4 separate regions of the Homo sapiens genome follow, and all the other regions are reported to be linked to region 1. The links are microRNA targets in miRTarBase. Many come from high-throughput screens and were not tested one by one. Region 1 holds a microRNA gene; each other region holds the end of a gene's coding sequence. Distances are between the middles of the regions.
Evidence for each region. Region 1 holds the annotated microRNA hsa-miR-6769a-5p (AGGUGGGUAUGGAGGAGCCCU, at 1,784-1,804, shown strand). A microRNA usually pairs through its seed, bases 2 to 8, with sites in the 3' UTR of a target mRNA and lowers its output. Matches are read on the target gene's strand: a 7mer-m8 pairs with bases 2 to 8, a 7mer-A1 pairs with bases 2 to 7 and ends in A, and an 8mer does both.

Region 1 (3,097 bases):
CGCCATGTACAGGGACGCCTGCAGGCCCTGAGTTCTGTCCAGTTTGAGCCATTGTGTCTGGAACATAGTGTTAAGTAAATATTTGCCGAATGGATGGATGGAAAAGGAAGGAAAGAGACCAGAAACAAAGTCTGCAACTCCTTCTCCTCTTCCTTACAAATTGTCCAATATGTCAGTATTGGACAGAGACTTAGCTTGACTTCATCAATACTTGAAAAGAAGGATTAAATAGTTGAGAATAAATGGAGCTATAGAGCAGTACATCTGTTCTCTGGGGTCAGCGATCCTGGGATGCTGCATTGGGAAGTGTTATTCCTGGTGGCCTCACAAGTAGGCACCGAGAATTTAGAGGATGGGGTGCCCTAAACAGCAGTGTTAGATCTTGCTAATGAGATGTCCTAGGCCACAGCTAACAGTTACTCCGTGTGTACTGTTGGGGCGCATAAGACCTGTTTCAAGCCACCACTTGGGAATGATTTTTGTTAGTTTTTAATTTTTTAAATATTTAATTTAATTTTAATTTTAATTTTATTTTATTGAGACAAGACAGAGTCTCGCTCTGTTGCCCAGGCTGGAATGCAGTGGCGCGATCTCAGCTCACTTCAACCTCTGTCTCCCAGGTTCAAGTGATTTCTCGTTCAGGCTCCCAAGTAGCTGGGACTGCAGGTGTGCGCCACCACAGTTGGTTAATTTGTTTTGTTTTATTTTGTTTTGTATTTTTGAGATGGAGTCTCACTCTGTCGCCGAGGCTGGAGTGCAGTGGCATGATCCCAGCTTACTGTAGCCTCCACCTCCTGGGTTCAAGTGATTCTTCTGCCTCAGCATCCCGAGTAGCTGGGACTACAGGCACGCGCCACCATGCCTGGCTAATTTTTGTATTTTTTGTAGAGATGAGGTTTTGCCATGTTGGCCAAGCTGGTCTCAAACTTTTGGGCTCAAGTGATCCACCAGCCTCGGCCTCCTACTAAAGTGCTGGGATGATAGGTGTAAGCCACTGCACCCGGCCATCTGTTAGCTTTTTAGAAGAGAGTTTGTCCAGGTGCAGTGGCTTATGCCTATGATCCCAGCACTATGGGAGGTGGAGGCAGGAGGATTGCTTGAGCCTGGGGATTCCAGACCAGCCTGGGCAATGTAGCGAGATCCTGTCTATTTAAAATGTAAATCACAATAAACAAAAGAGAGGTGCAGCAAACTCTAGCAGGTCCAGGTCCCTGCAGGTACCAGGGGAACAGGAGACCCCAGTGATGGTCAGGGCCTTGTGTTGAGAGAGCTGACCAGCAGGCCCTGGGCTCCCTGGAGTGGTGCTCCTGGCCCATGGTCTCTGGGAAACCCAGCAGCACAAACCGCTTTGCAATGTGGTCAGCGTGAGGCTTTTTGGTTGCAAGTGGGTGGCAGGACAGAATCAGCTTGGAGACATTGCTTTGGCGTCTTTGAAACCAGAGAGGCTTCATGCCTTTTGGAAGGAGGATCTGGAAAGCAGTGGGAACTTAGGCTGCTGTCTGGTGCCTTCAGGCGTCAGCTCCTGCTTTCCTCGTGGGGCTGGTGGTGGTGGAGCCAAGTGGTGTTGGGGGTGGTGAGGCGGTCAGGGGGTGGTGGTTGGGCCTGTGGGTTGGCTTCAGGCCCCCAGTAGTGGGGAGAGCCACCGGCTCCAGCCCTGTTCCAGGTGCTGCTGGTTGGGTGGGGGCAAGCAGCAGGTTTTCCCTGCCCTTCTCCTGGCCCCCAGGGGTTGAGCTGGACTGACCCCTGGTATGGAAGCCTGGTAAGTTGGAGGCAGGGCTAGGCCAGGTGGGTATGGAGGAGCCCTCATATGGCAGTTGGCGAGGGCCCAGTGAGCCCCTCTCTGCTCTCCAGGTGGACCGGGTCAGCTACCTCCTGCAGGAGATCTATGGCATTGAGAACAAGAACAACCAGGAGACCAAGGTGTGTATCTGGGTGAGGTTTCCCTCTGCCATTACAGAAGCCCACACCAGGAGCAGCCGCGGACAGCAATGCTTGCCGGTTCCCTTCCATGCCTTCCCCTGGAGTCCTAGACCCGCTAGACAACATCATTTTTCCTTAATTTTTTTTAAAGCTAACAGTTTAGGGAACATTTTATCCTTTCTCCAGCAAATTCACTAGCTTCTGATGTAAATTGCCATCCAGGTTCCCCAGGGCAGCCCAGGAATGGGGGCCAGTGTCTCACCCTCTAGGCTCAGGTGTGTGGCACCCTGCTGCCCGGCTCCTGCCCGCCTCCCCAGAGACAGCACGTCCCTGCAGCTCCTGGGGGAGGGATGCTTATTCTGTATGTCCATAGAACCAGTCCTGGTGCCTGACAAATAAGCCGTGGTGTACCCCAGTCAGGGAATGTAGCAGGGGATGAAATTAGTTTTTTTTGTTTTTGTTTTTTGAGTCAGTCTCACTCTGCTGCTCAGGCTGTAATGCAGCAGGGAGATCTTGGCTCACTGTGGCCTCCGCCTCCCGGGTTCAAGCGATTCTCCTGCCTCAGCCTCCTGAGTAGCTGGGACCACAGGCACGCGCCACCACACCCGGCTAATTTTTTGTATTTTAGTAGCGACGGGGTTTCACCATGTTGGCCAGGATGGTCTTGATCTCCTGACCTTGTGATCCACCCTCCTCGGCCTCCCAAAGTGCTGGGATTACAGGCGTGAACCACCGCGCCCAGCCTAATTTTTAATTTTTGTATTTTTAGTAGAGATGGGGTTTCACTATGTTGGCCAGGCTGGTCTCAAACTTCTGATCTCAAGTGATCTGCCTGCCTCAGCCTCCCAAAGTGCTGGGATTTCAGGCCTGAGACCACCACGCCTGGTCGATGAACTTGTTAAAAGGCACACTGACATGAGTGAAACTCCTGCCTCTTAAGATCTCTTGGAAAGTCTCACAGGCCCGCTTCATTATGGCATCTGGGCCCAGGACAACTGGAGCAGCTCCACGTGGCGGGAGCGGAGCACCTGGCCGGGCCTCGCCTCAACCCAGGGAAGTCAGTGCATTCATGTTTCATACCAGGGGGCGGCCCACTTTGAGAAAAGGTTCAGAGAGGGAATGTTTTCAGCCGCCCGGGCATATGGTCTCTGTTGCACTGACTCCACGCTGCCATTAC
Region 2 (3,097 bases), not on the chromosome of region 1:
GACTCGTGAGTACCGAGAGCCTTTGGCAGCACAGAGTGGAGAGCAGGCTCCTGCGGGACTATGCCCCCACAGGCAGGCGCCTGGAGGACAGCAGCCAGCAGCTTGGCGACCAAGAGCCACTAGGTTCCCCCCTGGCTCCAGGGCCTCTGGCTCAGTCCGTCGATAGCAACAAAGAGGAGCTCTGACTGTCCCTTCCTAAGCTGTGGGCACAGTGGCCAGGCCTCCCCACCTAGGCCCATGGTCAGTCCCTCTTTCCCCGCAACCTCACACTCCCGCCAATGCGTGATTGCCAAAGACCACTCAGATCATGGCAGTGTCTGCAGCAAAGCCACCAGATGGCACGTGAGGGCTGAAAGTCGGGGATGCGGTGGTCTCCTCCCTCCTGTCAGGGGGCAGAAGGGCATCCTCTGCCAGGTGGGAGCTGCCTTCCCCAGCCCAGTTTGTCTGCAATGGAGCTGTCGCTGAGCCCCAGGCCAGCCCAGTTCTGCCCCGTCTCAAGTGCTCCTCTTCCTTCCAAGCCCCTCCTCAGATGGGCCTGCATCCCGCCTGTGGAGTGCTTCACAGGGGAAACCCATCCGCATCTTAAGAGTTTGTGGCAAGCGCTTTAAAACAAAAGCTCTGATATCCTCAACAACCACAATGGGCAGGTGGGATTGTTGCCCCAGATGACTGCTGAAGACACCAGCTGTGGGATGTCAAGTAATTCCAGGGACCCCCAGCTGGGAGTCCCCGTCTGTGTCACTTGCCACACACTGCCTCAACCTCCCCGCCCCATTTTCAGCAGGGTTTGGGCTTAGCTACAGAGCCCAAGAGGGTCAGCCCTGCTTATCATCATAGGCCCAGCAGGCTGATCTCGAGCAGCGATAGGACAGCTCCCTGCAAAGCCATCTTAGCAACTTTCTCACTGAGAAGCAGGATTCAGAGCTGCTCTCCCCAGTTGCACCCCCTGACTCATCTTCCAGCTGGCTCTTCTCTCCCATCCTACTCCCTTCTGTCTCCCTGCCCTCTGCCATCCTGAACCATGCCTTGCTTCTAACCTGCCTGGTCAAGTTTTGTGAAACTTATCCTGCTGTCTCGGGCTGGCACCCATATGTGCTCACCATGTGTAAGGTGACATTTCCAAATGCCTTTGTGTGATAATGATGATGAATTTGGTTCCTAGTCTCTTCTTCATTGCCCTTCCTCACCAGCAATCTGCACTTTCCCATCAGGCGTCTTAGTCTCATTTGTAAGTGCATAAGATAATCACAGTGATTTTTCAAAGCCCAGGATCATAAGTGATTGCTTTTTCACTGGTTCTTACTAACTCTTCATGTATCCACTCAGAATTCCAAGGACAATCCCAGCACTCTGGGAGGCCCAGGCAGGTGGATCACCTGAGGTCAGGAGTTTGAGACCAGCCTGACCAACATGGAGAAACCCTATCTCTACTAAAAATACAAAACTAGCCAGGCGTGGTAGCACATGTCTATAATCCCAGCTACTGGAGAGGCTGAGGCAGGAGAATCACTTAAACCCGGGAGGCAGAGGTTGCAGTGAGCCGAGATTGCGCCATTGCACTCCAGCCTAGGTAACAAGAGGGAAACTCCATCTCAAAAAATAAGTTAATTAAATTAAATTAAAATAAAACATGCGCTGGGTACAGTTGCTTACACCTGTAATCCCAGCACTTTGGGAGGCCAAAGTGGGCCGATCACCTGAGCTCAGGAATTCGAGACCAGCCTGGCCAACATAGCAAAACCTTGTCTCTACTAACGGTAAAAAAAATTAGCTGGGCATGGTGGAGCATGCCTGTCATCCCAGCTACTTGGGAAGCTGAGGCAGGAGAATTGCTTGAACCTGGGAGGTGGAGGTTGCAGTGAGCAGAGACCGAGCCACTGTACTCCAGCCTAGGTGACAAAGCAAGACCCACAGTAAAGCCCCCACACCCCATCTCAAAAAAATAAAAAATAAAAAAGAACAAAGTATGCTACAACAAAAGTGAAAAGAGAAAAAGAATTCCAAGAACCCGGGCTTTCTGGATCCAAAGCTCTTTCATGGGGACGTCCTCTTCCCCTCTTGGCTTGGTCCAGACTTTTTCTTTTTCTTTTTTTTTTTTTTTGCAATGGATTTCGCTCTTGTCACCCAGGCTGGAGTGCAATGGCACGATGTCGGCTCACTGCAACTTCTGCCTCCCGGGTCTAAACAATTCTCTTCCCTCAACCTCCCAAGTAGCTGGGATTACAAGCGCCTGCCACCACGCCCAGCTAATTTTTGTATTTTTAGTAGAGACAGGGTTTCACCACATTGGCCAGGCTGGTCTCGAACTCCTGACCTCAGGTGATCCACCTGTCTTGGCCTCCTAAAGTGTTGGGATTACAGGCATGAGCCACCACGCTCGGCCCAGTCCAGACTTTTTAACTACCTGGCCCCACTGCAGACACAGTTCCCTCTAGTCCTTCCCAGAGTTACAAGAAGAGAACTCCAGTAGCCTTATTCTGTCAGGGACGAATTGTTTACCCCATGATAATGTAGGATATCATAAATTCTTCTTCAAAGGTTTTAGCCTGTAATTTGTTAAGTACATTGAGTTCTGAGATCCTCTCCAAAGAACCAATGTATCAGTATGTTCAGCTCACCTGTTCTTTGTTCTTCATTTTAACTTTTAATTTCCTCATTCTTTATGTCTCCTTGCCCCTAGTTTCAGTAAACAATCCCCTCCTAGCCTCTGTCACCTGCTCTGACCTGAGTCACCTTTAGTCACCTGGTCCGTAACCATCTTTCCTGTCTAAACTTCTCACCCCACCACTCTGGCTTATACCCCTGCTCTCTTTAAAATAGCCAGTCAGAATTAGCTTAGATTGTGCGGTCCAACCCTAGCCCATAGGGGAACAACACAGCAGTAGGGGGTACCTGCATCAGGGATAAGAACCCATTCCCCTCCCTTGTTCCGGTGTGCTCTCGCCATTGCACCATCCATGAGACGCACTCTTGTATAGAAGTAAAATTGCCTTGCTGAGAAAATGTATGTTTGAGTGCTATTTCTTTTGTGGCACTGAAAATTTATTTCTAACAAATTTGGGGTCTCATTTGGGATTCCCATCCTCCTCTGAGGAGG
Region 3 (3,000 bases), not on the chromosome of region 1:
CGCTACCTGACGCGGCGCCGCCGCATTGAAATCGCCCACGCGCTCTGCCTCACCGAGCGCCAGATTAAGATCTGGTTCCAGAACCGCCGCATGAAGTGGAAGAAAGAGCATAAGGACGAAGGTCCGACTGCCGCCGCAGCTCCCGAGGGCGCCGTGCCCTCTGCCGCCGCCACTGCTGCCGCGGACAAGGCCGACGAGGAGGACGATGATGAAGAAGAGGAAGACGAGGAGGAATGAGGGGCCGATCCGGGGCCCTCTCTGCACCGGACAGTCGGAAAAGCGTCTTTAAGAGACTCACTGGTTTTACTTACAAAAATGGGAAAAATAAAAGAAAATGTAAAAAACAAAAACAAAAACAAAAAAGCAACCCAGTCCCCAACCTGCACTCTACCCACCCCCATCACCTACTCCAGCTCCCAACTTTTGTGGACTGAGCGGCCGCAGAGACTGGGTCGCCTTGGATTCCCTCTGCCTCCGAGGACCCCAAAAGACACCCCCAACCCCAGGCCAGCCGGCCCTGCTCTGGCGCGTCCAAAATACTACCTAGCACAGGCCTCTGCTCGAGGCACCCCCAAACTACCTATGTATCCAGCCCCAGAGGGCCTCCATTCCCAGGAAGTCCCTATGTATCCCAACACTGGCAGACACCCAGCACCACCCTCCCAGACCCGCAAGAAAGTGAATCTCACTACTACCTACTCCCCTAAAACTACCTATTTTGTGCTGGCTGGCTTGCCTGCTACCTAGTGCCGACTGCTCCCAGGCAAGTCCCCTGCTGCTTACAGCCCGCAGCTTTTGGGGTCCCTGAGGCTGCCCTGAGAATGTGCTGAGGTCCAGGATCAGGGTATTGGCATCTATTTAAATCGAAAAATAATATATTTATTCCAAAAAGCATCCTAAGTGCTTGCACCCTAGAATCAATCCCTCCTTCTCTGGCTTGGCACCCACAGCTCAGGCCCATCAACCCCCACTTCTGGAGGGGAATGTTCCTGAGCTGGCTGCAGATCTGTGGGTTAGCTTCTGCTTAGCAGGACTGTGGAGATGCTTCCAGCTTCGCTGTCCTTTCCTCTGGCTCCTGTATCTTACTGTTCAGCTGTGTTAAATATGTACGCCCTGATGTTTCCTATAATAGCAGATACTGTATATTTGAACAAGATTTTTTTTTATCATTTCTATAGTCTTGGAGTTCATTTGTAAGGCAGTGTCTTGACTTGGAAAGGATGTGTTAATGGGGTGACTTTGTAGCATGGTATGTTGTCTTGAGTTAACTGTAGTGGGTGGGGAGGTCCAATGCCCTCCGCAATGCCCTTCATCTCCTGTGTTGTCCTGTACCCTGCTCAGCTCCATCCTGGGGTTCAGGGAAGGCACACTTCCCAGCCCAGCTGTGTTTTATGTAACCGAAAATAAAGATGCGTGGTGACAAAGAAAAATGTGGACTGCCTTATCCAGAGGGGACTGGGAAAGGGGAGGTGAGTATGGCTGGAGGGCAGGGGGCAGTGGGGAAGCAAAAGTGGGGTGGCTGTCCTTGTGATGGTCCAAGTGTTGGGTACCCATGTATTGGTGTCATGTATCTTTTTAATGTATTTTTATGTGTGTATTTGTATGAGTATGTGCTTATTTTTCTGTGTATGTATTTCTGTGTGTGTGTTTTTACCTAATTCCACAATTGTATATATTTTGGTGTCCATAATTGGGTGCATGTGTTTTTGTGTGTCCATAATTGCATGTCATTCTGTGCCCACAATAGAGTGTATGCCCTTCCCTGTGTGCATAATTGTATATGTGCCTTTATCCGTGTAGAGACGTTTGTCTGGTTTTTGCGTGTGCACTAACATCTTCTAGATCCCTTGAAAACGGAATCTTTGGTAGATACGTTATATTCTATGAATCTACCTAAAAACCTCCATCAATTCCATGAGGAAATTTCAAATCCACACTTTCCTCTAAGGCTGAGCAGTGGGCTTGGAAAGGGGCATTACCCAGAGCTGATTCCGGATTCGCATGCGCCCTGAACCCAGCCCCAGGCTAGGAAATGGGATTTAAGGTCCCCACCCCGCCTGCAGACCAGGCGAGGGGGCCCCAGGGTCCGGCACTGCAGTAGGTGGCGCGGGGAGGGGCTAGGACCGCAGACCCCCGCTAGGCTACGCAGCCTGGGCAGGGGCTGGGGCAGCTGGATGCGGGGAAGGGGCGAGGGGTGAAGGTCCAGGGGTTGTGCGGGCAGCTCAGAGCATCCTGAGTTCCGCCTGCAAGACCTCGTCTCCAGTCTCCTGCCTGGGCTGGGCCCGCTTCTTATGGCTCTTTTAGTAAAACCTGGCCCAAAAGGGTCTGTAAAACCTGAGGCCCCAAGTCGGGGCGGCCTCGGTGGTAAGATGGCGCCGGTGTAAGAGCTGCCTCCTCTCAGTGATGGGGAAAGGGTCATAAATCCGTTGTTGTTTATGAAAATTTACAACTTTGCAATACAACTTTATGAGTTGTTCGGCCCTTCCATTGGCCGCTGTCGGTCATGTGGATGAGAACCGTGAACATGAACTTTTTTATAATTTCCCTTGCGAGAATAGAGCCGCATTCTTTTGCTCCGCTCCGTCCTGCCTGCTTCGGAGCTCTGCCTTCCAGCCGGGCTCGGCTGTGCTTTGTCCGGAGATGGCGAGCGAAGGGAAGCCCCGGCCAGGCCAGGCCTGGCGGCTCCCGCTGGAGATTGGGCGCGCTCCGTTCCCGGCGCCGCGGCAGCAGCTTTGCAACTCGCAACCTGGCTAATTTCCTGCGTCCTCTGGCACCAGGAAAGAGGACAATTCTTCTCTCGGGCTGCCCAAGCGACAGCTGTCAGAGGGGCAGGAGCTTCTGGGAGCCACCGTCTGAAGGTGAGACATGTGGGGAGGAGATAGGAGCAAAGGTGGTGAGGCGACAGCCGGCGGCGGTAGCGGTGGGAGAGGGCACCCAGGGAGGCTTTAAGAGGGGCATACTCCCCCTTACCCATACTCACCCATTCACACTTGCCCCCAT
Region 4 (3,097 bases), 4.4 Mb from region 1:
AACTGTCTAGTTTTTAAATCCACCCTTAACCGTTCAAGAAACTGAAAAAGTCAACTTGTTTTTAAAATACCACACAGGTATGCAATCTTCCATGATTTGTTTTGCATCTCAGCTAGCACAGGGAAACCCTTGAAAAACCTAGCTGTCAGAAGTTTTTCCTGAGGGAAATCATTACGCTTCTACTGCTGAGCTTCATGTTTATTCTGTGCGTCGGGGAAAGGAGAAAGCAATGGGACAGAGAAGGGAAAAGTTGCGACTGGGTGACAAATTCATTAGGTGCATTTGAAAGTAAACGCAATGGAAAAAAGTAACAAATGCTAAAGTTTTCTAAAAGTTTAATGAAGCCAATAAGGCATATAAATTGTGTTCTGGCAGACATTAAGACCTGCTTTCTCTTACCAAAGAAAATGGCACGTTTTATCAAAATTTGACAATTCAGAGTAAAGGGTACTGAGATTAAGCTTCAGAGCACCAACTTAAACAAAACAACCAAAAAATTGTTATCCAACGTGGAAAGAGGAGCAAGAACCAAGGCATAAAGGGGAATTAAATATGTGTTCCTCCATCTCAAAATCCTTTTAGGAATAGGAGTTCTGGCCACTTGTGAGCAACACATTGCACCACCAAACCCCAATTCCAGAATCTAAATTTACGATAGAAAAACAAAGGTAACTCCAAACGCATGTCTTGTATATTCCAAAGGGAAGCTTGAAAGTATTCATAATACATAGGCTTGTCTGTTTCAGGTAAAATGACAGATTGCTATAATTCTTCCTGCTATTATAGTCAAACAAAAAATGACCCACTTTCGCAAAAGTTTAGAAATCTCTCACTTTCATTCCTAGTTTTAGTATGGAATTCACTTTTTTAAATAAGGGCTACATCTATAATGAATACAGAACTTCAATTCACACAACATTTCTAACATTCCATTCACATCCCACCCAGTCAATGAATGAACATTTATGGTTAACTCAGCAAAGTTTCTTCACAGAAAGATATTATTAAATGGCTGAAGAAATTGCAAACTTTAACAAAGTGCTGTGAGTAATTACTGGAAAAACCCTTACACTGATTTGCAATGGTCTTTTAAGGATAAAAATAGGAAGTAACTGATACTGGACTACAAGTTTGCAAGGAAACATTTTTCACTGTCCTACTTGATATATAATATAATAATATGATAGAATAAATTACAGTACCTGGCAGGCTGACATCAGTTCTTCATCTAAAAAAACACTATCATTCAGTTCAGGATATTAAAAATGAAGATGAAACATGCTCTAAAACATTGTAGCTACAAGAGGTCTTATATTTACTCAAAAGAGGAATCTATTGAGAACTTTTTATTTAGGTCTACCTAACAGCTAGAGAATCTCCATGCGATTCCATCTTTTCCAGAATGAGATTCCAAACTGAACTTTTTAGGAGAGGGATTGGAGGGACAGGGAGAGTTGGGTTTTGCTATTTTAAGTTGCAATCACATTATTAGTAGATAAAAAAGAGAGCTTTATCATCTTCCACCCATTCCAATGGAAACTGCACTAAGCAGGGACTCCATGAAAAATGTAAAATGATAGACTAGAAAACCTACCCCACCATCCATCTCCCTCTCCCTCTCACTAATACTGAACCAAAAAGGAAGCCCATTCTCAAAGTTCATGACCTCTCTACTTTAGGTCACCTCGAATGCAGTCTACATGTTTACATTTACCATAAGGAAAGTACCCCGCATGGGAAGTAGTGTTTGTCTTAAAACTGAGTACTTTAGGCCTACAGGGTTACTCTGGGGACAGTTTAATAATAATACTGCTACTTTAGAGCACTAACACACACAAAGTGAATCCAATAAAGCTCTGGGCATTGATTCAATATTTAGTATTAATTGCATGACCATCATAGCACCTCTTTACATCACACAATCACCAGAATTAGAAATTGATTTGAAAACTAAAAACAGGGCACAGTCCAATAATTAGAATTGCACACTGTTACTATATAGAAACCAGGTGCATGGTACAGTGCAGCTGCAAAAATGGAAGCCAAATCATGTTTTTAGACAATTTTAGGAACCTGGCAATACTGTTGAAGCAAAATACTCAACACAGCAGGAAATGGACCCAAAAAAAAAAAAAGCATTCTATAACCAAATAAACATCTGATATTTCCTTTCCCTTTGAGAATAAATACAGTTAAGGTCACTTTTAGCCTTGGAACGGATATATGTTTGCCTATGATGATCTTGCTAACGACTACACAATATCTGATGTCCTCTGCTAGGATTATAGTTTTAAGAAAGCCATAATTACAAGAGGCATCTACTATAAATACCTAGAACTTCCTTTTATGGCAACCACTATAGAATTCACTTGTCTTAAACAGTGAACAAGGGAAGATGGCCTCATGTTTCCTTTGCAATTATAGTATATGTTGAGGATCAAGTGGCTTTCAAGCAGCATGGTGGGTGTGAAAATGTTTGCAGTTTAGATCATTCTGTTGCGTTTATGGGTTGGTGAGTCTGTAATGACATCGCCACACTGGGCTGAGGTACGCTTTCTAGTTCCACCATTGTCCAAGTGGAGTGCCATTTCTTCTGATATGAAAGTGTTCAAATCGACATCATGGAGTCCATTTCTCCTTCGACTAGCATTCGATCCACTGCTTACATGTGTAGGAGAGCCTGGGGTACTCGAACGCACGCTTATACTAGCCATTGCACCACTAAGACCTAGGAAGAAGAAAAAAGGTTTTAGAGTTGCTCAATTATGTAACCCTTTTGAAAGCAACCCACTTACTTTCCATGTTGTCACAATGTCAAAGCATGTCTGCCTATTTCCTTTATAAGGGATTACTAGTAAGCAATTAAGTTTTATTCTGGATAAACATATCATCTGGCCTTGACATATATTTTATTGGTAATACTACCAATATCTACAATATTGGTAACTACCAATTACTAAAAGTTACTACGTGTCAACCACCGTGCTAGGTGTACAAATATCTCATTAAATTCTCCCATCTATGAGGTAGGTACTGCACAAAATTTACAGATAAGGACAGGAGACATTTGCTTTAAAGACAAGACATTTTTGGTTAC

Region 2: miRTarBase lists FOXRED2 as a target of hsa-miR-6769a-5p. Seed matches in the 3' UTR shown: 7mer-A1 at 2,781-2,787.
Region 3: the mRNA of HOXA7 is a reported target of hsa-miR-6769a-5p. Seed matches in the 3' UTR shown: 7mer-m8 at 390-396.
Region 4: miRTarBase lists HAPSTR1 as a target of hsa-miR-6769a-5p. Seed matches in the 3' UTR shown: 8mer at 2,459-2,466.

Annotation. Positions count from the first base shown.
Region 1 is chr16:4,669,540-4,672,636 of GRCh38, forward strand. MIR6769A (microRNA 6769a) reads left to right here and starts at 1,779; the gene lies at 1,779-1,851. MGRN1 (mahogunin ring finger 1) reads left to right here. Exons shown (of 17, transcript NM_015246.4): 9 at 1,852-1,920.
Region 2 is chr22:36,487,096-36,490,192 of GRCh38, reverse strand. It overlaps FOXRED2 (FAD dependent oxidoreductase domain containing 2), which reads left to right. Exons shown (of 9, transcript NM_001102371.2): 9 at 1-3,003. The coding sequence ends at 185. Among named protein-coding and RNA genes, the nearest start is that of TXN2, 7.0 kb to the right of the region's middle.
Region 3 is chr7:27,152,146-27,155,145 of GRCh38, reverse strand. HOXA7 (homeobox A7) reads left to right here. Exons shown (of 2, transcript NM_006896.4): 2 at 1-1,430. The coding sequence ends at 237. HOXA3 (homeobox A3) reads left to right here and starts at 2,563. Exons shown (of 6, transcript NM_153631.3): 1 at 2,563-2,858. HOXA-AS3 (HOXA cluster antisense RNA 3) reads right to left here. Exons shown (of 3, transcript NR_038832.1): 3 at 1-2,852. RefSeq lists an enhancer at 43-627.
Region 4 is chr16:9,116,299-9,119,395 of GRCh38, reverse strand. HAPSTR1 (HUWE1 associated protein modifying stress responses) reads right to left here. Exons shown (of 4, transcript NM_014117.3): 4 at 1-2,728. The coding sequence ends at 2,484. Among named protein-coding and RNA genes, the nearest start is that of HAPSTR1, 26 kb to the right of the region's middle.